Linked DNA regions of Homo sapiens: regions 1, 2, 3 and 4 are each linked to region 5. The links come from fine-mapping of genetic effects on gene expression. A gene starts in region 5. Each other region holds a variant in brackets. All regions are shown on one strand. Distances are between the middles of the regions.

Region 1 (5,108 bases), 40 kb before region 5:
TATTTGAAGTGATGACGAGCACTCCAGGAACAATGAAAAGGAGAAGAAAAATCAGTGCGATAAATCAGGAGGCCAAAATAAATGCAGACCACTCCCCCGACGACAACCAGTTATTAAGCAAGAAAGCTACCACTAAAATGAAATTCATGGCTTGGTGTCATTATAAATACACACTAAAGAGGGCTTCAGGTACTGCACCACCCAACACTGCAGAAAACACTAAAATACTTCCATAGCAACTATCACTAAGGACATCATTAGGATGCTGAAAATGTAAAAGAGGAAAAAAGAGCCAATAAATGGGGACAAACAAGATTATTTCCCTGGTAGAGTAAAGCCCATTGTTCACTCTCAGAAGACATAAATATTTAACCACCCAAGGCAAGCTATAACCAGCTATTTCAGCTAGCCAAACCCATCTTCCTGATATATAGTGTTTTCAAAAAATAAATCAACCAAGGAGTTGAAACCCAAGGAACTCACAAATACATGTACCAGGCTGGTGGCAGCACGCTCTAGTCTGAAGGATTGATCATGAGTCAGGAGGGGAGGGTGCAAGCCTCAGCCCGGTCACTTAGTACCTATCAAACCTATTATGGGACATGTAGGTATTGTCAGGGACACAAAAGTGAATCAGAAACAGGTTTTGTCCTTGGGCTGTTCAGTGTTGTAGGGGGAGATAAAAGATAGATTACTATAAAATAAGCTAGATGTGATAGATGTCAAAAGAGAAATAAGATTGCTGCTATTCAATTTTAAAATCTTATTGCAGGGTGTTGTGGGTGGAATTGCACCCCCCAAGAAGGTATTTTGAAATCCCAACTCTCAGGATCCCAGAATGTGACTTCATTTGGAAACAGGGCCTTTGCAGATATAATCAAGTTAAATGAGGTTACTAGAGTGGGCCTCAATCCACTGTGACTGATGGCCTTATAAGGGAAGAGAATGCCACGTGGAAACAAAGACACACAGGGAGAAGATGACTGTGCAACATCAGAAGCAGAGATTTGAGTGAAGCGGCTCTAAGCCAGGGAACACCAAGGATTGCCAAGAGCCACCAGAAGCTGGGAAGGGGCAAGGAAGGACTCTCCCTACAGCCTTCAGAGAGAGGATGGCTCTATCAATGTCTTGATTTCAAACTTCCAGCCTCCAGAACTGTGAGAGAATAAATTTTTGTTGTTTTAAGCCAATTCTTGGTATATTATAACCATAGCCCTAAGAAGCAAATACAGAGGCAAAGAGTAACCTCATCCTACTGGGATTAGGGCCAGGTTTCTGGTAAGAAATGACACATAAATTGAACTTTGAAGAACTTATACTATCTAAATGGTAGGAAATGTGGTTTCCTATTTACGTGATAATAGTATTCATCAACCATTGAGAATCCACTTTGTGTCAGATATTGTACTAGGAGTCATTCATATATAAATGGATTGGACTCTGGCTCATATACAGAAGTCATCTAGACCTCACCTCCCTCCTTGACCATCCCACTTCCATCCCACAGTGGTTGATAAGTATAAAATGTTTAGTTTAGCAAATAGAAGAGGAAGATGGGTTTGGGGGTTGGGAGAGCTGTGGAGGGGAGAGGGGAAAAGGGCAAAGCATCTGTTCCCTTTCTGACCTCCTTCTAGAAAGACGGTGGAAGCAGGTTGCAGAACCTCTGTGAGTTGTTTTGTTTACATGTGAAATTAGCTGAGGAAATAGTCAAAGAGACTCTCAGAGGCTCTAGGCACAAGCCCAGCTATTTGGGGCTGAGCCAGGGAAGGACATTCTCCTCTCTGCACCACAGAGGCCAAATGGAGGCTTCCCAAGGACCAGACTCTTTGGGAACACTAAGAGGCAACACCCTTGGCATGTGCTGTGTTCTCATGATGGACAGTGACCCTGGAAAAGTTTCAGCCTCGGCAAAGCCTCAGCAAGTGGCCCTGCAAGCAGAAGCTGGACATGTGGGAGCTGGGGCAGAAGCAAAATAACAGGGCAGAAGACGATGGCAACTGTGAAAGAACGACTGGTGAGCAAGGGAACTTCTTTGGAAACTTCTAGAAATAACTGGAAATACTTTGAAGGGGGTTCATTTCTTTCAGTCGAGTAGGAAGGGGATTTACGCCATAAATAATCGGTATGTAAAAAAAAAGACAACTGGCAGATGAGGCCTGGAACACATGGGTCAGGCACGGATTTCTAATATATCCAACTGAAATTCATCATTATCCCCTTTCCACTTTACCAGCAAGAAAACGGAAGCTCAGGAGGTTAAATAACTTTCCCAGCCAGTAACTCTGTAAGTGACTGAATCAGAAATAAAACCATGTCTGTCTGCCAGTAAGTCCAGTATTCTTTCTACTATACCACACTG[C/T]TGATCTGGGCAACAGTGGGGAAAATATGACACTTGAAAGGAGCTTGGAAAAGAACACAGTAGGTCAGGATACTAGCCAGGGTTCTGGCAGAAAACAGAACTCAAGCCAAATTGTTCAAATGAAGGGACTTTAACAAAGATACTGCTGACATAGCTGTGGGCAGAATTAAGGGAATTAGCAAGGGATGTTGAGACACCCAGAGACCAGCAATAGAAGGAAACCACTCCTAGAGAGAGACCTGGTGAGAGCTGGTGAGACCTGGAGCCACGGAAGACAGACCACCAGCAGGATCTATAATGGTGGAGGGAGCCTTCCAGAGAGGTGGCTCCAAAGCAGGGAGGGAATGGGGAAAAATAACCCAACCTTTCCTTTTATCTCCCAGTCTCCTGCTGCTGCCACCCATTGGCTGTGCCCCCACCTGGAAACCAGCTATCAAGGGAGCCTGGGGCAATAAGTGGCAGGAATTAGAGACTCCTGGAAACAGAAGAGGAGGAAGACATTGCCATGGAGAGCAGAGAAGTTGAGGCCATGTGCTAGTCTTGTCCTGTTTTGCTCTTAGATTTATCCCCTGTCCCCGCTCTACCCTGTTCCGTATCACAGAGAATTACTTTTTCCTTGTTCCTTTGCCCTCTGGTTTCTGGGTCAGTTCAGCCATTGGATGGCCCTGAAGAGAGAGCAGAAAGGGAGAAGCTGGGTATTTTTCCCCACTTCTCTCAGCTTCAAGTATTGTCTCTGGCAGCGGCCATCTCTTCTATGGACCCAGCTCTTGCTCCAAGAGCTTCTGTGGTTCCAACTTCTCCCTGGTGGCCTGGCTCCTTTTGTCCCTTAAGCTTTAGGCAGTGGTAGCAGCTTCCTGCTCTTGATAATCTCAAGGATGCCTTACTCTCCCACTTTAGGCTTCTTACCTTTGTCATCTCCTGGTATTAAATCTCTTCTTTAAAATATCAAGAATATTTAGAATCCTGACTGATAGAGGAAACTATCACATGGGAGAGCCTCAACCTTCACAGAAAAGCATGAGGGAAATGAAAATACACATGGCTTGCATATCATAAATATGGAAAAACTTCCATTGAATCTGTCACTGCTGTGTGCCTATTCCCTCCTCTCACTGGGGCCTCCAATCCCTCAACCACCAGTGTTCTGGTCCACTTTTTAGCCTGGCTTGCCCTTCATACCCCTGGAGATCATGAACAGTCATATCCGCAATATTCTGTTAGAATTCTTGATTTTCCTGCTGACTTTTCCTTCTGCTGTAGCTATTTTATCAATCCCTATCCCTGAGTACAGTAAATTATCTATTTTCTCTCCTCCTGCTTTTTTTACTGGACAAAGGAACATGACCTGGCCAAAATTTCTTCTCCTGGGATGTTTGTCTGCCCGGCTACTTATATCCATTGTACCCATTTCCAACAACCATGCACCCATGGCTTTGCCCAGAGTCCCTGGAATCTTTTCAGGTTCATGTAAACTTAAAATTTATGCAAAGGAAATCCACCAAGGATTGGAGACCAAAAAACAAACGTATGACATCATGCTATAATTTCACACACACAGAATTATTTTAAAAATAGAATGGGTTCATAAAAATGAAATAAATTGCTGATATGTAAAACTCATCATAGAAAAATCAATGTTATTAAAATGGTTATTCATAAAATAATTCACCACATTTTTCACTTTAGAATACCAAACCCCCACCATGCATTTGGAATTTAATTCAATTTACAAAGTTTCCATTTGCCCACAACTCTTCAGGACCACATGCCTTTTCCAAGTCAAATATATTTCAAGGTCCAATATCAATGGTTTAGATATACATTAAGACATGTCAGACAGAGATTCTGTCTGCTCCACTATATGCTTTTGTTTTTGGACCTGGGATGCAGTTTAATCTACTTCTTAAATGCAAAGATGTGGTAGATTGCGTTATTGGTTTTGATTCTTTCCTATACTATATCTTTGCCCTTCACCATTGGCTTTGGAGTCCCTCTCATGTTGAAGGTTAGATTTCATAGAGTAATTATTGAGGAATGCTCTTGGAAACAGCCATTTTAAGGGAATAGGGGAAGCAAGATTGACACAGAAAAAAATGGGACTAATTTAATTGCAACCCAGGCCTCACCCAATCCTATGGGAAGCTCTGATGCTAGGATAGCTCTTCAGAGATGTCTTGAATTGAGGCAAGAGGTCAGACTTCATACTCACATCTGACTAGTCTTTGAATGTGGGTTGACCATAGGGGCACCCTTGGGCAAAGCAGTGCCCTTCAGCTGAGGACAATTCCTGGTGGGCAGTGGGATGGGGACTCCAGGGCGAGGGTGGAGGTGAAAGGATGGGAGTCAGTGGACTTGGTGAGCCATCATCAGCAAGCAATATTCCTAGCAGCTGAGAAAGTAAGTGCCTTGGTTCTGGAAAGGGACCAGGAAGTGCACCTCAGCATCCACTACACCCCACAAAGGTGAAGTATATCTCAGTTGGGCACAGTGGTGCACATTTGTAGTCCCAGCAATGCAGGATGATCCCTTGAGCCCAGGCATTTGAGTACAACCTAATCAACAGGCATACCCTTATCTCTTAAAAAAAAATGAGGTATGTCTCTTTGCTCTTTGACATTAGTCTCAGCCTTGTAACTTGCCTTGACGAACAGGATGAGGCAGAAATTAGTGTGCCAGTTCCAAGCCTAGGCCTTAAGAGACCTTGCATATTTCCAATTTTCTTCTTACACATGTCCAGGGCAACCTACTG
Region 2 (5,108 bases), 140 kb after region 5:
TTATTAGAGAACAGCAAGGGGGAAATCCGCCCCCATGATCCAATCACCTCCCACCAGGCCCCTCCCCCAATATTGGGGATTACAATTCCACATGGAATTTGGGTGAGGACACAAATCCAAACCATATCACATGTCAAGCCATCAAGAAAAGCATCCCTGAAAGAGAAAACCTACTTAAACAGGAATAGTAATTTATTTTTTTTCTGGGCAGCTGGACTATGTGTTTACAAGAAAATCCAGGCTGGGGGTGGTGGTTCACACTTATAATCCCAGCACTTTGGGAGGCAGGAGGAATGCTTGAGCCCAGGGGTTCAAGACCAGCCTAGGTAACATAGTGAGACCCTGTCTCTGCAAAAAAATTTAAAATTAGCCAGGTGTGGTGGTACATGTGTGTGGTCCCAACTGCTCAGGAGGCTGGAGTGGGAGGATCACTTGAGCCCAAGAGGTCAAGGCTTCAGTGAACCTAATCTCACCACCGCACTACAACCTGGGTAACAAAGCAAGACCCTGTCTCAAAAAAAGAAAATAAAAAGAAAATCCTGGGCCGGGCGTGGTGGCTCATGCCTGTAATTGCAGCACTCTGGGAGGCCAAGGTGGGCGGATCACCATGTCAGGAGACTGAGACCATCCTGGCTAACACGGTGAAACCCCGTCTCTACTAAAAATACAAAGAATTAGCCGGGCGTGGTGGCGGGTGCCTGTAGTCCCAGCTACTTGGGAGGCTGAGGCAGGAGAATGGCATGAACCTGGGAGGCAGTTGAAGTGAGCTGAGACTGCGCCACTGCACTCCAACCTAGGCAACAGAGCGAGACTCTGTCTCAAAAAAAAAGAAAAAAAGAAAATCCTTTGAAGCCCACCAAGAGATTTGAGACATGCTTGTAGTCCCCAAAAGACAGGTTTATTTAGCTTGGTGTAGCCAAAGAGAAGAAAAGCCATAGGCAAAATTTAGGAATCTCCCAGTCTTAGAAAGTTAAGAAGGAATTGGGTTGGGTGATTTTCAGCCAATCTTGGGAAGTGAGGAACTGGTTAGAATTGGAAGAAGCAGCATTGTTTACTGACTGGTTCAAGGTTCAAAATGGAGAATTTAAACTATGGGGAAATGTTCTTTGTGTGATTGAGGAATTTTTTTGCTGTTGTTTTACCTGAGCTGTGAATCCATTATTTTGCCTTATAAGTTAAGATCTTGAAGAGGGCCCATCATTGCGTTGACAACCCCCCTAAATTTAATACTTTTAGACTTTTTCCCAAATGACATCATAATAGATTTCTAGATCTGTATCAGTGACATTATGTTGATATTCTTCCTTCAACTCATTATCATTATGTATCAAAGAAGTCTAGTTTTGTTTTCAAAACTAAAATTTTTCATCAGATCTCCATCGACTGTCTTACTGCTTGTATTGAATGGTAATTTATAGAACCATCTATCTGAACATTGGCTGCTAACAGCATTTAAGACTCTAGAGACTGTGTTCTTGGCCAAGGGTGTGCCACCAAGAGGCAAATTAAATGCATCAGTTTGGAAGCCCTGTTTAGAAACATTATCTGATACTCATAAATTTCAAAAAAGGGAAAGTATCAGTGTTGATATTTTCATCCTGACTACCGTGAGCCTCTAATTTATTTAAGGAACATTCAACATGGACAGAAGAGTTCATGTATACACAGCACAAAATTTTATTAAGGTTTAGTAAAGCACAGATACTTCCAATGCAATTCTATTATTAAGAACTATATTTAGTTTGGATTAAATGCTCTGGTTTTAAGATGTGGAACTGGGCCGGGTGCAGTGGTTCATGCCTGTAATCCCAGCACTTAGGGAGGCCACCGTGGGCAGATCACAAGGTCAGGAGATTGAGACCATCCTGGCTAACACGGTGAAACCCCGTCTCTACTAAAAATACAAAAACAAGGAATTAGCCGGGCGTGATGGCAGGTGCCTGTACTGAGAGGCTGAGGCCTGTAGTGAGGCTGAGGCCTGTAGAGAGAGGCTGAGGCGGGAGAATGGCATGAACCTGGGAGGCGAAGCTTGCAGTGAGCCGAGATCGTGCCGCTGCACTCCAGCCTGAGCGACAGAGCGAGACTCCCTCTCAAAAAAAAAA[G/AG]ATGTGGAACTGGAATATTCTCATTAACAATTTCTGATGAAGTAGGAAATAGATTTGTAGGCATTTTAAAATAGAATATTCTTCAGGGAAGAAAATGGCTCTTAGCAACCTGGTGTCATAGTCATTGCCTGGAGTTATGGGAGCAAAATAAAGAGCATTTGATTCTGAAAAAGTATAAAGGACTAGCCCATAAGAAAAAGCAGCCTGTTGCAGCACAGGACAAAAGACGGTGGCTCATTTCTGTCACTGGCTCATAAGCACAAGCTGCTTGACTCATTTAGAGGAAGCTATCATAATTTATTTAGAATATGGACATTCTCCCTTTCAAGCAAAATGCATTTGCCTTATGAGTACACTGATGACAGTAGTTTTTGGTGTTATTACTAAACATTGTGAGTAATTTCCTACACATCCTATTTTCTTTCTAGAAAGATTTGGAGAATCACCGTTCAGTTCAGTGTATTTGGATCATATTAATAGTATTATTCCATGTCAGGCCACTGAACAAAACTACTGATGGTTCAATCACTTGTGGTGATTAAAAAGGGGTTTGAAAACACCACAGACAACCAAAAATATTAGAACCAGATTGTATTCATTAAAGGAATTGGTCTGTAGTGCGGTAGGTAGGTATAATTGTAACAATCTTATTAGAAGGTTATATCGTCTAACCTCTTTTACAATAATCTACATGTTAAAATCATTGTCAAAATTGATTTATTTAAGAGCAACTGAGGAGGAATTTAAGACAGGTATAACTAACATTTGTTACTTCCTACAAGCTAAAGGAGAGTGAAAAATCCTAAGCAGAAGCAAGACATCTCGGTATGATTTCACACCTATAGAAAAATTGAAAGAATAATATTTGTTTTACCATATTCTCTGTCTGAGACATATGTTTACATATTATTTTTTCTGAATCATTGGCAAGTAGGTTGCATGTATCATGCCTCCTTATCCCTTAATATTTCAGTATATATTTCCTAAGAACCAGAATTTTCTTTGACATTAATAGTACCATTATCAAAATCTGGAAGTTAATGTTGATAAAATACTTTTTTTTTTTTTTGAGACGGAGTCTCGCACTGTTGCCCAGGCTAGAGTGCAATGGCATGATCTTGGCTCACTGCAACCTCTGCCTCCCAGGTTCAAGCGGTTCTCCTGCCTCAGCCCCGAGTAGCTGGGATTACCGGCGTCCGCCACCACGCCCACCTAATTTTTTGTATTTTTAGCAGAGATGGGGTTTCACTATTTTGGCCAGGCTGGTCTCAAACTCCTGACCTCATGATCCGCCCGCCTCGGACTCCCAAAGTGCTGGGATTACAGGCGTGAGCCACCGCGCCCGGCCACGATAAAATACTTTTTTAAAAATCTACAGTCCTTATCACATTTTGTCAATTGTCCAAATTCAATATCCAGTCTAGGATCACATAATGCATTCAGATGTTATGTCCCTTTATTCTTTAATTTAGAATTGTTTTTCAGCCATTGTCTTTATGATATTGATGTTTTTGAAGAACCGAGGCCACTTATTTTATAATATGTTCCTTAATTTTGGTTTGTCAGATGTTTCTTCATGATTAGACGCAGGTTAGACCAGACAAAATACTATCAGTGACATTATAAGTGTTTTTGATTATTACATGTAGAGACACATGATGGCTCTCTGCCCCTCATTGAGGATATTAATTATAGCCAACTGGTCAAGGTGTCATCTAGTATGACCACTATGTAGTTGCTATTTTTCCCCTTACAACTAGTAAGCAATCTGTGAGGATATACTTTCAGGCCATGCAAACATCATGTTCCTCATGAAACTTTTCCCTTCAATATATCATGTGATGATTTTTGCCTGTTATCAGTTTTTACTATGATGGCTGCAAGTGGTAATTGTCCGATACTAGTTTTCTCAATGATTTCAACTGGCATTTTTCTGTAAGAAAGTCTTACCTTCTCCATTTTTAAAATTTATTAAATATGAATTCATTAATTTCCTTTTTAATTTTTTATTACATCATTTAACAGCATTTGTACACAGTGTGCAGATATACAGGGTAACATCAATAGCCTTCATTGCACATACCTAGTAATCATTTTGCAGATATCAATGGTTCAGAATATCAGAGATAATTAACAACTTTTCTTGTGGGTCCAATTTTTCCACCATGAGACCTATAATACTTGTTTTAGATGTAGTTTTGCCATGCTGTATATTTATGTTCTGATTCTTTTCTTTTTCTTAAAAGAAGTTTCCTTTTGTGATAATTTTAGATTCATATGTAGTTATAAGAAATAATAGTACTTCTGGCTGGGCATGGTGGCTCACGCCTGTAATCCCAGCTACTCGGGAGGCTGAGACAGGAGAAATGCTTGAACCCGGGAGGTGGAGGTTGCAGTGAGCCGAGATCGTGCCACTGCACTCCAGCCTGGGCAACAGAGCATGACTGTGTCTCCAAAAAGAAAGAATAGTACTTCTGGCTTGACAGTATGAGGAGCTCCACTGGCCTGCTCTCATATGAAACTGATAAAAAATATTTTTAAAAATCACTTAAAGCCTATGGAGACAGTCCTAAGGGCCAACAGCAAATGAAGAAACATATATCAAAGGAAATCTGAAAATTCTGTAAGAAAGGAAAGCATCTGTGGTATATAAACCAAGACCACTTGCTCCCACCCCCTTCCCAGCTCAGCAAGACAGACTTCACTCCAGACTGCTATAATCAAGAACACAGGCTCCCTCTCCAACTTATCCCCCTTCCTCAACTTCCACTTGGAGGGCCCCCTTCCTGTAAAGAGCAAGACATCACTGTTTCTCATCCTGTCCTCAGCTACCTATTGTTGAAGCTAAGCACTGGGCTAGTGCAGTTGAGAGGCAGGGGCTCTCCTCTTCCATTGGGACAGAGGCTCTACCTTGAACTCATCACATTGAGAATACTGGGCCCCTTAGCACCCTTGCTCAATCTGGAAAGGTGATGGTTCCATGCCTTACCAGGAGAGGCAAGACAA
Region 3 (5,108 bases), 240 kb after region 5:
TAAAAAATAGTTTTAAAGGGCAATAGCAAGACAATTATTTGAAAACATATGCTTATAAGTTGTAACATTCAAGCTGTGTTGAGACAAAAGGATTTTCTGAAACTACCAAACTGGCATATATATATGTATATATATATCCAAATCTGGAAAATTGGAGTACAGAGTGGAATTTATAAGGATACAAACCTAGAAGTTTGTTGTTTAAAATTTTAAAGAATTAACCTGAGAGTAGAAGAAGCAAAGGTATAACATAAAGAAAGCCTCTACTGCCCAGTAAAAGAAAAGACATTCTGGTGCATGGAGGAGGAGCCTGGGCAATAAGAACTTGATTAGCATGAAATCTGATTTAAATGTCTTTGCTCTTCTTGCCCCTGCCCTTTAGGGGGAAAGGGGATGAATCTCCAGGTGGGGGTATATGATAGAGACATACAGATAAATGGGGGCAATCCCAGAACAGCAGGCTGGCTCCTTGCTTAGTGCATTCTTCCCTAAAGAGTCCTCATGTTCAGCATCAGGGCAACATGGTGTCTCTCCGGGCCACAGATTGGAAATGGCCAAATTGGTGTCCAGATAAATGGGTCAGAGACAACATCCAGATTTCCCAGAGCTCATGCAAAACAGCTGGAGAATCCAAATGTGCTTGTATCCTAGTTAGGGAATAGGTAAGTTCTGGAGGAACTAATGAAATATAAACAGCTGGCTGGGCACAGTGGCTCACGACTGTAATCCCAGTACTTTGGGAGGCGGAGGTGGGCAGATCAGTTGAGGTCAGGAGTTCAAGACCAGCCTGGCCAATATGGTGAAACCTCGTCTCTACTAAAAATACAAAAAAATTAGCCAGGCGTGGTGGCTCATGCCTGTAATCCCAGCTACTTGGGAGGCTGAGGCACGAGAATTGTTTGAAAACCCAGGAGGTGGAGGTTGAAGTGAGCAGAGATTGTGCCACTGCACTCCAGCCTGGGTGATACAGCAAGAGTCTGTCTCAAAAAAAAAAAAAAAAAAAAGAAAAGAAACACAAACAGCTTAATATCTAGACAGAGAGGCCACAAGGTGCCAGAACATTATAGAAGATGGCAGTGTGTGCCAGGATGGCAAATTTCAGCAGCAGCTACCAATAGAATCCCCAATGGACCTGTAAGGATTGGCTCAACAGTAACACCAAGGGACACCCTGAAACAAGGCAGGGAAGTTAAAACCTCAGTAAAAGATCAGATATCTTTCCCCAGAGGCTGAGTGCAAGACTTCGAAAAACTTGGTTCACTTCCCAAGAAAAGAAGGTGGAGGAGGGGAAGAATTTAGAATTCATTGAGGCTTAAATCCTGAAGTGACTTAAATAATAATAACTCAAAAAGACTGTTTTACACTAGAAAATGAATAAACAAGTTTAAGCTTTTTATTGTCTTATCAATCAAGCATAGAGACTTGAAAGCCAGATGAGATCAGTTATAGAAAACACAACTACATTTTTATATGATTTGCAGCATTTACATTCAACCTTTATTTTATTTTGTTTATTTATTTATTATTATTATTATTTTCTGGAAACAGGTCTTGCTCTTTTGCCCGGGCTGGAGTGCAGTGACACAATTTTAGCTCACTGCAGCCTCGAACTCCTGGGCTCAAGCAGTCCTCCCGCCTTAGCCTCCCGAGTAGCTGGGTTTATAGGTGCGAGTCACCATACCTGGCCCTCACCTTTATTTTATAAATGTACAGATATATGTATATGTTTGTATATTTCATTGTTATATATGTGTTTGTATATATATACATATGTAATACATCTTCTAGTGATGAAAATTACTAATATCAGAAGTAGGCAGATAGCTATACCCACGTTAAATGTATAAATCTTAAAGAAAAAATTATGTATTGATTAAATAGAAATAAGAAATTTTTAAAAACTGAAGATAGCCTATTGATACCATAATTCTGTTAGTAGTAATTAGTATCTATGGTCTAGTTCTTGTTAGCAAGTTTTAGCAAGTTGCTACAAGAGGGAAAGGACATCAGGCAAAAGAAATCCATTTGTAAGCATCAGTGGAAGGAAATGAAGTTAACAGACACATATTAGATTGGGAGAATATATTTGTAATATCTCAAACCATAAGAGACTAATTTCTACAATAGATAAGGTATTAGTGCAAATCAATAAGAATTGACAGAACAGGAAATCCATCAGAATAACCAAGAAAACGAACAGAAAACAAAAACCTAATAGAAAAATGGACAGTGCAGAGACTGCTAGCTATCTCCAGGTGTCTATTCTACCATTCTTGTATAGTACAATAAAGGTTTTA[G/T]CTGGGCTCATAGTTGTCAGCTAAAGGCTTCATTTCCCTGACTCCCACGTGGCTCAGTGTGACTATATGACTAAGTTCCCTCCAATAGGATATGAGCAGGAGTATTTTGGACCACTGACTTGTTGATAACCTTAAAAGAACAAGCATGCCTTCTTCTGCCTGTATTCTCCTTCTTCTATTAGCAGATGGGAAGGCATGATGGGAGAGTGAGGGGAGGGCAGTCATCTTAGACCTAGAGATAGAGGCTGTGTGTTGAGGAAGGTAGATCAACAAGGTAAGAGGGACACTCAACATGTGGAGCTGCCATAGCACCCCTAAACTGCTCTTACTATTAGGTAAGAGGGAAATAAACTTCATCCTGTATAAGCCATTATTGTGTTACTTGAGTCTATTTTACAGCCTTTGCAACTTATATCATAACTAGTCCAAAATTGAGTACCCAGAAGTACGAATACCTAAAACCTGAAATATAATTGAATTACTGAGAGGTCAGGTGGTAGCGCACAGGCATGGCATGCTGGATAGCCATTGATTCTTGTTAGACCTTGGGGCATATTTGGTACAACAGTCACCTGGAATACCTTTGAAGGCAGACCACAAACTTATTGAGCTTGGAAAAACAATGCTGGTATGTATCAGCTACTCCTTGTCAGTGCTGGTCAGTGTGCAAGCAGACATGGAAGGCTCTCTGAGTGCAGCATGCAATTTAAATTAACTGAGAGTCCAGTAATATTCAATCTTCAAGTTTTGAAAAAGCCAATTACTTTTATATCTAAATAGCAGAAGGTAAGACTGTATCCTCAAGGCTTTCTCGAGAGCTTTTCTTTAAGTGTTCTTGACAGATAATGGGATCCAGCCCAGTGGTAAGCTTCAGATGCAGGGTGTTTCCTTCAAGCTTTTTGTTTTGTATATTGTTTAGATAACTGTCATAAATTGGAGAGAAAAGAGGCTGAACACAGATGCCGTAATTGAAGAGAACAGTTTTCATGCTTACAATCCATGATCAAATAAAATCTCTGGCTATAGTGAATTTCAATGGAACAAAAAAGAAATTGTGGTTTAGAAAGCTATTAAGTTCTTGCTAAAGAAGCCACAATACCGGCCTACAAGAGCATGTGACTGTTTTTACCTCTTAAGCAATCCTTGAGTTTCCCTAAACCTGCATCAGCAGATTAAAACAATGAGATATCATTTTCTCCCATCAATTTGCAAAAACTAGAAATTTGGATATTAATGCTAACGGTTGTAGGGAAGTACAAATATGGGAACCTCTTAAACACTGATGCTGGGCACGTACACTGATGTGAACACTCTCGAAAAGTAATTTTATAATATCTAGTCAAATGAACTAGAAATAAACATATAACTTACAAGGTATAAATCACCCTCCTATGTATTTTTCCCAGATAAATTGTCACACAGTTTTTTTTTCTTTTTTCTTTGCTTTTTTTTTTGTTGTTGAGACAAGGTCTGGCTCTGTCACCCAGTCTGAAGTGCAGTGATGGGAACACAGCTCACTGCAGCCTGAAACTCCTAGACTGAAGCGATCCTCCCACCTCAACCTCCCAAGTAGCTAGGACTACAGGTGTAAGCAGTTGCACCCGATTAATTTTAAATTTTTTTTGGTAGAGAGAGGGTCTCCCTGTGTTGCCCAGGCTGGTCACAAACTCCTGGGCTCAAGTGATCCTCCTGCCTCAGCCTTCCAAAGTGCTGGGATTATAGGTGTAAGCCACTGCATCTGGCCTCACAAAGTTTCTTAAAAGGACATGTATAAGGATATTTACTTTGTCATTGTTTGTGGTAGCAAGATGCTGGAGGCAATCTAGGTATTCATCACTGAGGAAAGGATAAATAAAACACGGTGCTATGCAGCAGCTAGAAGCAATGGATCAGATGTATATATAGCAATATAGATAGGTATTAAAAACAGTGCTAATTGTGTGGAAACAAGCAAAGTGTCCATAAATGAATGGATGGATTAAAAAACAGTAGAATTAATATATTTATAAATGGAATATCATTGAGCCCTAAAAAAGAACAAGATCTTGCTATTTGCCACAATGTAGATGAGGCTGGAGGATGTTATGTTAGGTGAAGTAAACCAGACGCAGAAAGAAAATTATTGCATGATCTCACTTACATCTGGAATCTAAAAAAAACTTTCAAATATTCAGAGATACAGAACAAAACAGTGGTTACTAGGGCAGATGGGGCTTAGAGGAGAGAAAATGAGGAGATGTAAGTCAGAGGATATGAAGTAGCAGATACACAGAACAAAGAGGTTTAGAGATCTAACGTAGCACACGAGGACCATAGGTAATAAAATTGTTTTGTGTTTGGGATTCATGCAACATGTGTAGATTTTATCTGCTCTTGCAACAAAAATTTTAAAAATGGGTAACTGTGAGTGATGGATATGTTAATTTGCTTCACTATAGTAACCTTCTTACTATCTATATGTTTCCTATAACGTGATGTTATATACCTGAAATATACACAATAAAATTTATTTTAAAAAAACAGTGCTGATTGAAAATCAGAAACAGATTAAGGTCTATATTTTAATACCACTGTACTATCAAATGATGTACACATAAGGTGGTACAGTGTTGTGTGGTTTGTATTAAATAGTAAGAAAAGGATTAGAAACAACTGATATTTATCATAGGAAACCAGTTAAATAAAGGATGGTGAATACACACAGTGCAATAACATGGAGCTGTAAAAAATACAAAGCTCTCTGTATAATAATGGAAATACCTTCAAAATATATTAAGTAAAAAAGAAAAGTATAAAGCAATATATATGGTT
Region 4 (5,108 bases), 24 kb after region 5:
TTTGGAGTACAGTACTTCCTCTAAAAAAATTCTTTTTTTTTTTTTTTTTTTTTTGAGACAGAGTCTCACTCTGTCACCCAAGCTGGAGTGCGATGGCATGGTCTCAGCTCATTGCAACCTCCTCCTCCAGGGTTCAAGTGATTCTCCTGCCTCAGCCTCCCAAGTAGCTGGGACTACAGGTGCCCACCACCACACCCAGCTAATTTTTGTATTTTTAGTAGAGACAAGGTTTCACTATGTTGGCCAGGCTTGTTTTGAACTCCTGACCTCGTGATCCGCCCACCTCAGCCTCCCAAAGTGCTGGGATTACAGGCATGAGCCACCGCACCCGGCCAAGACATTCTTTACAGATCCTTTTCCTTTCCAACCCCCATCTCATATTAAAAAAAAAAAAAAAAATTCTTGAAGTGCTTGAGGGAGTTCAGAGTTGTGCAGCAGGATCAGCCATTTGCTTTCTAAATTCTGCAAATAATGATCTGTCTCATAAATCTTGGAATCTTGTATTTGTTACATGCTTTATTGGTACCTCAGTCAAAGTTTTTTTTTAAAAAAGGGTGGAGGGTAAGGGGTCATCTTTTGAGCTTTTTAAACTAAATATTAGAAAGGGCTTTCCGGTCATTAGGATTTTTCCAAACATAAAAGAACCATGATGAATCACAGTTTGACAAAGTATTTTATCTGTCTAGATGGAAGATGATATTCAGTTAGGGGAAATGGAAACAAGTGGTTGTCCAACATTTGTCAGAATTATTATAACCATAAAAGTAATCCATAAAAAGTAATCCAGTTGATTTTTTTTCCATTTTAGTAATATTTTTAGGTTAAATCAGACAAGGTGGTGCAGCATTTGATATAAAGGCTTGGTATCAGGTGAACCGTCCTGCTTTGGAGATTTGTGTACCATTCTTTCTATAGATTGTAATTTATCTTCTTAGGACTTATTTTTGCGATCTTATTTCAGATTTTTTATTTCCTGCAGTTCTTGTTTTTTCATTTTGTTCTTTATACTGCAGAAATCCATTTTTCTCCTGTGGTTTAATAGTCATACATTCTCTTATTCTTAAGGTGATTGCCTTTAACTTAAGGCATTTACTGTCTTAGTTTAAGCCTCTGTGTGCCTTCCCACTGCGCCACATGGGTGGGGCTCGTTTATTTGGGACATGATCCCAGGAAGTAGAGTGAAAGACTAGGGAGAATGAGGCAAGGAAGGGAGAAAAACCAGTAAAGCGTTCTAAGTATCACTGTGGGCCACTGGGGCTCAGTCTCCCTGAGGAACCATGAAGAGAGGCCTCAGGAGCCCACCAAAGGGAGGCTGAGGTGTTCATTCCACCCCCCCGCCACCCAGAGGCATCACTTCCCCCTTGGGGGATGCATCAGAACAGCCCCCAGCAGAACAGCAGAGCCCCCTGCAGCATAGGCAGGAGCAACTGGCACAGGAACTGTTCTCCACAGCTGCGCTGAAGCCCGGTTGAGGGGACATGCATGCAGCCACAGGCCTCTGCTGCAGGGTTTGTTTATTTACCTCCCTGATTATGTAAACATCTTCCCTTTCTTCACACAAGCACTTTGGCACATTCCCACATTTCTCTGGTCTGTACCCATTCTGTCCCCTGCTAAATAATCTTGGGGTTGTTATGGACATACTTTCTTTTGGTCTTTGATTTTTTAAATAATGTTGAGCTTTTCTTAATCATTCTTACTGCCCGTATCTCTGGCATTATCTGTTTGGGGTTTTTTTTCCATCATATATGCTTCCTCTAAGAGGTTTTTTTGGTTAAGTGTCTGAGACCTTGAACACTTGGAAATACCCTATTGTGCCCTCAAATTTAAATGACAGCTGGACATAAAGCTGTAGGCTTAAAGGTAATTCATTGAGTTTTATGATAAAGAACAAATTTTTTTTTTTTTTTTAGACAGAGTCTCACCCTTTTGCCCATGCTGGAGTGCGGTGGCACAATCACAGCTCACTGCAGCCTCAACCTTCCAGGCTCAAGCAATCCTCCCACCTCAGTCACCTGAGTAGCTGGG[A/G]CTACAGGTGTGTGCCACCACGCCTGGCTGATTTTTGTATTTTTTGTAGAGATGGGGTTTTGCCATGTTGCCCAGGCTGGTCTTGCAGTGGCGCGATCTCGGCTCACTGCAAGCTCCACCTCCCGGGTTCATGCCATTCTCCTGCCTCAGCCTCCCAAGTAGCTGGGACTACAGGCACCCGCCACCACACCCAGCTAATTTTTTGTATTTTTAGTAGAGACGGGGTTTCACCGTGTTAGCCAGGATGGTCTCGATCTCCTGACCTCATGATCCACAGTTTCTTAAAATATGATTACATAATTTTTTTTATTTGTAGTTGAGGTAAATATTACAGCTCAAGTAAATATAAGTTTATTTATCGGTATACTAATGTGATCTCTTCAGTTTTATTTTCCCTTAAATTCTGAGAAGGTCTCAGGGTGTCTTTGTCTCTCTCTTTCTGTATTTTGCATTATTCATTTATTATTTGGATTAAAACCTGTTTTTAGGCCAGGCACAGTCACTCACACCTGTAATCCCAGCACTTTGGGAGGCTGAGGCAGGCAGATTGCTGGAGCCCAGGAGTTTGAGACCAGCCTGGGCAACATTGGGAGACCCATCTCTACAAAACAAACAAACAAAAACAAAACAAAACAAAACAAAAAAACAAAGAATTAGCTGTGCATGATGGCAGGCTCCTCCTGTAAGTCCCAGTTACTCAGGAGGCTGAGGTGGGAGGATTGATTGAGTCCAGGAGGTCGAGGCTGCAGCGAGCCATGATCATGCCACTGCACTCCAGTTTGGGCAACAGAGTGAGACCTTGTCTCAAGAAAACCAGAAAACAAAAAACCTGTTTTTAGGGTAGGGAAGATTTTCCAAATGAACCTTCTGTTTTTACAGTAATAGCAAACTGCTGTTTTCTTTCTGTGGTCTTTTGCTTTCTACAGTATTCCCCCAGTGATATATAGATATACAGACTAGTTTTGGCTCTAGAGTGTCTTAGATAGCCCAGACATATCTTGAGTCTTAGTAGAAAACTCTTATACCAGAGGGATGTGTAAGGAAGGAGTAATGGTAAGAAAACATGCCTTGATTTCAGGAAATCCTCTTGACCCCCAGGATGATTTTCTCTTGTTGCTTACATGCCTGCTTTTATCACCATGCTACCTGAATCAATAGCTAATAATTTATAAAACTGCTTCTTCTAAGAGGTTTCTGCTTATTTTAGTCTTTGATATTATCAGCCTAAAATGACAGTTGATGGTTAAAATATTGTCAATGGATACAATATGGGTGGGTAAAATTATGCAGTTAAACAGGGTAAAACTAAGTTTCCCCCAACCCCTCTATTATATATATATATACTCTTGGCATTGGCTTTCAAATTATGTTCCTTAGGATCACTGGTATTCTACTGAAATAAAATAATACAATTTATTTAAAAAGTGAATAGAATGAACAAATTATGATTTTTTTCTCATAAATTTTTCTTAAATCTGCGCTGAAAGAAATTAAGCAAATGACATTTTTCTTAAATCTACGCTGAAAGAAATTAAGAAGCAAATTAACAAGAAGAATTTGGCAACAGCCTGTAATTTTAGTTTACCATTCTCTCTAGCTTTTATAATGGAATTAAATCAGTATTTTATGGTATTCCAAAAAGAATGTGTATGCTTTTGAGGTACTTTGACAGTTGAACACATTTGAGAACCACTGTTTTTGGTAAAAATGAAAATAGAATTTATATGTTGAAAAGTAAAGAAGAGTAGTGCAAAGATGAATTCAACATAAATAGAGTTTATATGTTGAAAAGTAAAGAAGAGTAGTACAAAGATGAGTTCAACATTTATTTACATAAAAGTTGTTTTGAATGGATAAAAGTTGCCCCCATTCTTCATGAGATTGTTTTCTTAATGTAAATGTAATATGTTAATGTAAATACCTTGATTGATTGATTGATTGATTGTGAACTTACAGGAGCCCAGGCTTGTGTGCTCGTGTTCTCTACCACAGATAGGGAATCTTTTGAAGCAGTTTCCAGTTGGAGAGAGAAAGTAGTAGCCGAAGTGGGAGATATACCAACTGTACTTGTGCAAAACAAGATTGATCTTCTGGATGATTCTTGTATAAAGAAGTAAGATGGCTACTTTTGGGGAAGGAGGGACAGTAATTCTATAAAGTTAAGACATCTTAATTTTTGCATAGTTTTACAGGTTCTAGGAAAAATTCTATACTTTCATTTTGAAGGCTTTAATGACTTAAATATTTTAATTTACCTAAAATTTCTGTGAGCTATTCTATGTGATTGGTTTGGGTTAAAAAATTCATTGATTCCTAAGTAGATAAAATTAAAGGATTAAAATTTGAAGGCTCTTTTAGAATTCTAATCTCAGGTCTTTGCACAAGAAATCTAATTCTTCATGTTAAGTCAAACCTTAATATGGTAAGAATGTTAAGAAAAGCATCCCTAGATTTTGTAATACCCAGAATAAGTAACTATCCTATGTTGATGAATTTTAATTAAGGGTTCAGATTCATATTGTTTTGTATATTCAGAACTCTTATGCTCAAATTTGTGAACAGATAATTTCTGTTCATAAATATTTACTTATTGTATTATTATTTTTGCCAGTTTTGAAAATATTTGCTTGGTTTTTACCTGTTTTTTAAGTCTTCTTATGTTAGTTATCTGTTGCTATGTAACAAATTAGCCCAAAACTTAGTGTCTTAAAACAACAAACATCTATTATATCACAGTTTCTGTAGATCAGGAGTTTGAGAATGGCTTAGCTGGTGGTTTTTCATGAAGCTGCAGTTGAGATGTTGGCTAGGCCTGTTCTCACGGAAAGGCTACACTGGTGCTGGACCATCCATTTCTATGATGGCTTATTCACTTGGCAGGAAGCCTTAGTTCCTTGTCAGATGGGCCTCTCCTATTCTCACAACACGGCAGCTATTTCTCCCAGAGTGGGTGATCCAAGAAAGAGCAAGACAGAAGCCACAGTGTTTCTTATGACCCAGTCTTATACTGTCCCTTGTATTGCATATTAGTGGACACCCAGACCAACCTTGATTACAGTGTGGGAGGAGACTACACAAGG
Region 5 (5,108 bases):
AGCAGAGTGTTTCTTCTGTTCTGCTGTTTCTTAATTGCCTTCAACTCCAAATAATGCTTGTGTCAAAGTGGCATGTTTTGGGGTGGCATATTCTGGATCTCCTTCAATGTCCAACAATCCCAAGGAAATGGAAAAGTGGGGAGGAAAGAAATGATTTTGGGGGAACCCCCTTTCAGGAAGTTTTTCTCAAATTTGGATCCCAGAAGTACTCCCTGAGACCCTCTAAGATTTTCTTTTTTTTTTTTCCCATTAAAAAGAAATTTGGCAAGATATACATAAAACATAAAATTTACCATTTTTAGCCATTTTTAAGTATAAAGTTCAAGAGCATCAAGTTTATTCACATCGTTGTGCAACCATCACCACCATCTATCTCCAGACTTTCTTCATCTTGCAAAGCTAGAACTGTAGACATAAAACAGTAACTCCCCATTCCCACCTGCCCTTCCTTTCCCACAACCACTTCCCACCCCCCAACTGTCTCTATGAATTTGACTACTCTATGTACCTTATATAAGTTGAATCATACAGCATTTGTCCTTTTGCGACTAGGCATAATGTCTTCAAGCTTCATCCATGCTATAACATGTGTCAGAATTTCCCTCTCTCTCTTTTATTTTTGAGACAGGATTTGCCCAGGCTGGTCTTGAACTCCTGGATTCAAGTGATCCTCCCATCTCAGCCTCCTAAGTAGCTGGGATTACAGGGATACCTCGCCACACCTGGGTCCCTCCTTTTTTAAGGCTGAATAATATTTTATTGCATGTATATACTACATTTTGTTCATCCATTCATCCATTGATGGACATTTGGGTTGCTTCCACCCTTTGGCTATTGTGAATAATGCTGCTATAAACATGGTTGTACAAATTTTTTTTTGAGTCCCTGTTTTCAATTCTTTTGAATATATACTCAGAAGTGGAATTATTTAATCATACGATAATTCTATTTTTAATGTTCTGATGAACCATACAATTTTCCATAGTGGCCGTACCATTTTACATTCCCACCAGCAGCACACAAAGGTTATAATTTTTCCACATCCTTGCCAACACTCATATTTATTTTCTGTTCTGCTTTGTTTATAATCATCATTTTAATGAGTGTGAAGTTGTATCTCATGGTTTTGAGTTGCATTTCCCTCATGATTAGTGACCTTGAGTCTCTTTTCATGTGCTCATCGGCCATTTGTATACCTTCTTTGGAGAAATGTCTATTCAAGTCATTTGCCAACTTTTTAATTGTTTTTTTTCTTTTCTCAGAAAGGGCATCAGTACGTTACTCAAGTTTAAGAGATACTGCCAACCAAATCCTAGAGATAAATCTGTTAGCTACTTGATATTAAATTTCTTACAAATACTATTGCTATTATAGGTAAAATAATCTCCACTAATTTTTAAAATTATTAAGTGTGAATTATAATTCACATACAGAAAAATGTGCATAAGAGTACAGCTTGAATTTTCACAAATGGACACGCATTTATAACTAGCGCCAAAATCAACGGAGAGAACCTCACTAGAAGGAAGCCCCTCTTCCAGTTGCTAACTGGAAGCCCCTCTTCTAGTCGCTAACTCCTTCCAGTCACTATCCCCTGCCCACCAAGGTAACCATTATGCTAACTTTGAGCCTCTTAGTTCTTCTGTTTTTGTAGTTTATAGAAATGGACTTATGCCATGTGTACTTTTGTTGTCTTTTTATGCTGGGCATTAGGTTTCCCCAGTTGATTCACGTTATTGCCTGTAATTGCAGATGCTTTTTTGCGTTGCTGTATAGTGTTTCATTATATGAACTCTGTGTAATTTCATTAATTTATTCTATTGTTGATGGTCTTTTGGGTTATTCTCATTAAGGAATTATTACAATAAATGCAGCTACGAACATTCTGATACCTGCCTGTCCGTGCACCCTAAGTATTCGTTTCTCTTTGCTCTATATGCAGGCGTGGAACTGCGGGGCCATAGGGTATGCACCTTTTGCAGACAGTCCCAAACTGTTTTTCAAAGGAGTTGTTCCAGTTTACATTCCAGCAGCAAAGTAGAAGAATGCAGTTACTCTACATCCTGGCCAACACTTGGTATTTTCCATCTTTTTTTTCTATTCTATTTTATTTTGAAATATAAAAACAACTGAAGCAAAGTTGAGATTGCTTTTGCGGAACCTTTTCGTTTTTGGTTCGCTTCTCTGAATAATTAACCATCTCAGGCTTCTATTTTGTCCTGCAGGCTGTGTGAGTGCGTTTTCGACTTTGCTCGACATTTTTTTGCTCACTTGGCCACTTAAGATGTCATCTGGTCAAGAAAATAAGGTAGGTGTCCGAAGCGGGGCAAGCCCTTTGAGGACACTGGAAGTGTGATAACTCTGTAGGCGAAACTCATGCGGACCGTCATTGGCCGATTTCTCTTTTCTAGAGTTCACGATCTAGGAGATCCTGCTCGTCTCTGATCTCCCCACTGCCCTCCCGGGCTCCCTTGGAGGCGCCTGGAAAGCTGAGCCGCCGCCAGCCACCCGCCAGAACAGGGGCGGGGCAGGGCCGCGGGTCCGCACAGAGCATGCGCAGACGAAGCACGGCGCATGCTCCGCAGCGCGGCGGGTCCACAGATGAGGGGAGTCGAGACTCCCGCGCCCCACCACCCCCGGCGGAGCTGCTGCTGAGCCACTCAATCTGAGCCCTGGCTACTAATAAAGTTCGTTTAAAAATCATAATCATTCTTAAGAGAGCGAAAGAGGGTGCGAACTAGCCGCTCGGCCCCGCAGGGAGAGCTGGCGCGTCGGGAGGAGACAGCGGCGGCAGCGGTTGCGCCGCGACCAGGAGGAGCCGGTGGCGCCGGGCGGCGGGTCCGCGGCCGGTGGGGGACGGTGAGTAGCGGCTCGCGCTGCGGTGCAGCGGCGCTGCACTCACTCGCCCTCTCCAGGGGCTGGGGGTTCGTCCGGCTCCACTGGGGAAGACTCAGCTTCTCCCCGGGGTCCCGGGTTGTGCCTTACTCTCCGGAGTGGGCAGGGGTATCGAGGGCAGGGGCCTCCCGGCCCGGCTCCCCCATCCCCCGGTTCGGACCGCCGAGCGCCGGCTCTCCCCTCCCTGAGCACCGATCCCAAGTTCCAGCTAGAGAAGGTGGGCGGCAGCGCCAGCCCGGCGCCCCCTCCCAGCTCCCAGCGGTGGGTACCTGGAATTGCCTGGTGGGCGGGAAAGAGGGGTGGAGCGAGGGCGGCGCTGCGTCCCCAGTCTGGCCGAACGTTCGGCTTTTTGCCTGCCCCAAGTCCCGACTGGGGAAGGGGCGACCCGGGCTGGGCCAGACACCAGTAAGGGCGTGAAGTGCTCAGGTTAGGTTTGATGGCGAAGAGAGTCCTCAGCTCCACCCTGGCATTTAGACTCCTCCCTGCAGTGCGACCACTCTTTACCCGCGACCCCACCCTTCCCTAGTTTCTTGTTCATAGAGTGCTGGAATATGAATGAGCCAAATTGTGCTGTTCCATTGACACTGGTTGCTACAGAATTAACTTTACTCGGAGATCCGAGGAGCCATCGGCAGTTCCCAGGAGTAAGAACCTGAGAGCGTGTGAGAGTAAGAACTTCATTATCAGGAGCTAGTGAAGTGGCAGTAGGGTCTGAAAAGGGCTGTTAACTTCTCTAGGTTTTTATGTATCTCCTAACATCTAGGTAATTTCATTGACCCTAAGAAGTTTTTCAGTATTTTTACAAATATAACCTGTACTTCTACTTAAATAAAGGCTGTTATGAGAAAACAACCTTTTGATTAGTGAGTTAACTCACCCTTTGCTTCTCTAATTTATTAGACCGCATTAGCAAAATGTTAAAAGTTTTGGGGAAAGGGTATTTATATAAAGTATTATTGTCGAGGTTTTTAATTGTACTCAGAAGTATGCTTATTTCTAGGAACGTAATTGTTTTGATCTAGTGCTTTAAGTCTATAGTTTCTGAAAAGCAAGAGTCCGACTGCCTGTTAAAATTTAATTTGGCTTTTTTCTTTAAATTTATTTTAAGGAAATTAATTTATTATTTTAAAAAGTGTATGGTAAAATTGATTTTTTTTCGATGTACAGTTCTGCGAATTTTAGACTCATGTAACCACCACTACAGTAAGGATGTAGAACAAATCTATCGCTCCCCCGCCACAGAAAAAAAACCTAATGTGATCCCATTATATCATACTCCTTACCCCTGGCAATTACTAATCTTTTCTAGAAATGAAATCATAACAGTTAGTAATCTTTCGATGTTAGCTTTTTTTCACTCAGCATAATGCCTTTAAGATTTCTCCAAGTTGTTTCATGTATGGATAATTTCTTTTTTTATTGCTGAGTACTATTTTATTATGTGGATATGCCACAGTCTGTTTCAACATCTGCCCATGGAAGGACATTGAGGTTGTTTTCAGTTTTCTGTGATTATGAATCAATCTGCTATAAATACCATGTACAGGTTTTTGCATGGACATGTTTTCATTTCTCTAGGGTATTGCTAGGAGTGGATTGCAGGGTCATATGGTAAATGTATGTTTAACTTTTAAAAAACTGTTAAACTGTTTTCTGGAGTATCTGTGTCATTTTGCATTCCCACAAGCAACATGTGAGAGTTCTAGTTGCTCCACATACTCCCAGCATTTGATAGTGTCAGTTTTTTTAAATTTAGCCATTCTAATAGGTGTGTAGTGGTATCTCCTTGTGGTTTTAATGTGCCTTTAACTAATGGCTAAAGATGTACATGTTTTCATGTGTTCATTTGCCACATGGAGTCGTTGGTGAGGTATCTGGCAAAGTCTCTTGCCCATTTTTAAATTGGGCTGTTTTCTTATGTTGAGTTTTGAAGGCTCTTTATATGTTTTGGATACAAATTATATGTTAGATACGTGTTTTTCAGGTATTTTCTTCCAGTCTGTCTTTCTCTTCATTCTAACAGTGTCTTTCAGACAGCAATGTTTTTAATTTTGGTGAAGTCCAGTATCAGTTTTTCCTTTTATGGGTCATCTGGTGTCATGTCTAAAAACTCTGCCTAACAGGTCAAGATTTTCTCCTTCTAAAAATTGTTTTATAAAAGTGTTCCATTTAGATCTGTGATCCATTTGAGTTAATTGTATAAGGTGTGAAGG

Which allele goes with the higher level. Alleles are on the strand shown, and positions count from the first base shown. SD is a standard deviation of normalised expression in the study named. Not every link is listed here.
With allele G in place of AG in region 2, the expression in lymphoblastoid cells after a statin of the gene that starts at base 2,575 in region 5 is lower (moderate effect, 0.66 SD a copy in CAP).

What was found.
Region 1: its variant is fine-mapped to the expression of RAB23 in aorta (GTEx, PIP 0.99).
Region 2: its variant is fine-mapped to the expression of RAB23 in lymphoblastoid cells after a statin (CAP, PIP 0.91).
Region 3: its variant is fine-mapped to the expression of RAB23 in whole blood (TOPMed, PIP above 0.99).
Region 4: its variant is fine-mapped to the expression of RAB23 in blood mononuclear cells (TOPMed, PIP above 0.99).

Annotation. Positions count from the first base shown.
Region 1 is chr6:57,259,352-57,264,459 of GRCh38, reverse strand. It overlaps LINC03001 (long intergenic non-protein coding RNA 3001), which reads left to right and starts at 1,114. Exons shown (of 3, transcript NR_109774.1): 1 at 1,114-1,157; 2 at 1,793-2,014; 3 at 2,743-3,936. It also overlaps a transcript of PRIM2 not described here. The variant C/T (reference allele first, on the strand shown) is at 2,360.
Region 2 is chr6:57,082,943-57,088,050 of GRCh38, reverse strand. No RefSeq gene overlaps it. Among named protein-coding and RNA genes, the nearest start is that of ZNF451, 4.7 kb to the left of the region's middle. The variant G/AG (reference allele first, on the strand shown) is at 2,103.
Region 3 is chr6:56,982,870-56,987,977 of GRCh38, reverse strand. The region is part of intron 2 of BEND6 (BEN domain containing 6); the gene reads right to left. Among named protein-coding and RNA genes, the nearest start is that of BEND6, 30 kb to the right of the region's middle. The variant G/T (reference allele first, on the strand shown) is at 2,298.
Region 4 is chr6:57,195,483-57,200,590 of GRCh38, reverse strand. It overlaps RAB23 (RAB23, member RAS oncogene family), which reads left to right. Exons shown (of 7, transcript NM_016277.5): 4 at 3,985-4,141. Among named protein-coding and RNA genes, the nearest start is that of RAB23, 24 kb to the left of the region's middle. The variant A/G (reference allele first, on the strand shown) is at 2,029.
Region 5 is chr6:57,219,774-57,224,881 of GRCh38, reverse strand. RAB23 (RAB23, member RAS oncogene family) reads left to right here and starts at 2,575. Exons shown (of 7, transcript NM_016277.5): 1 at 2,575-3,156. It also overlaps a transcript of PRIM2 not described here. RefSeq lists a silencer at 2,872-3,221.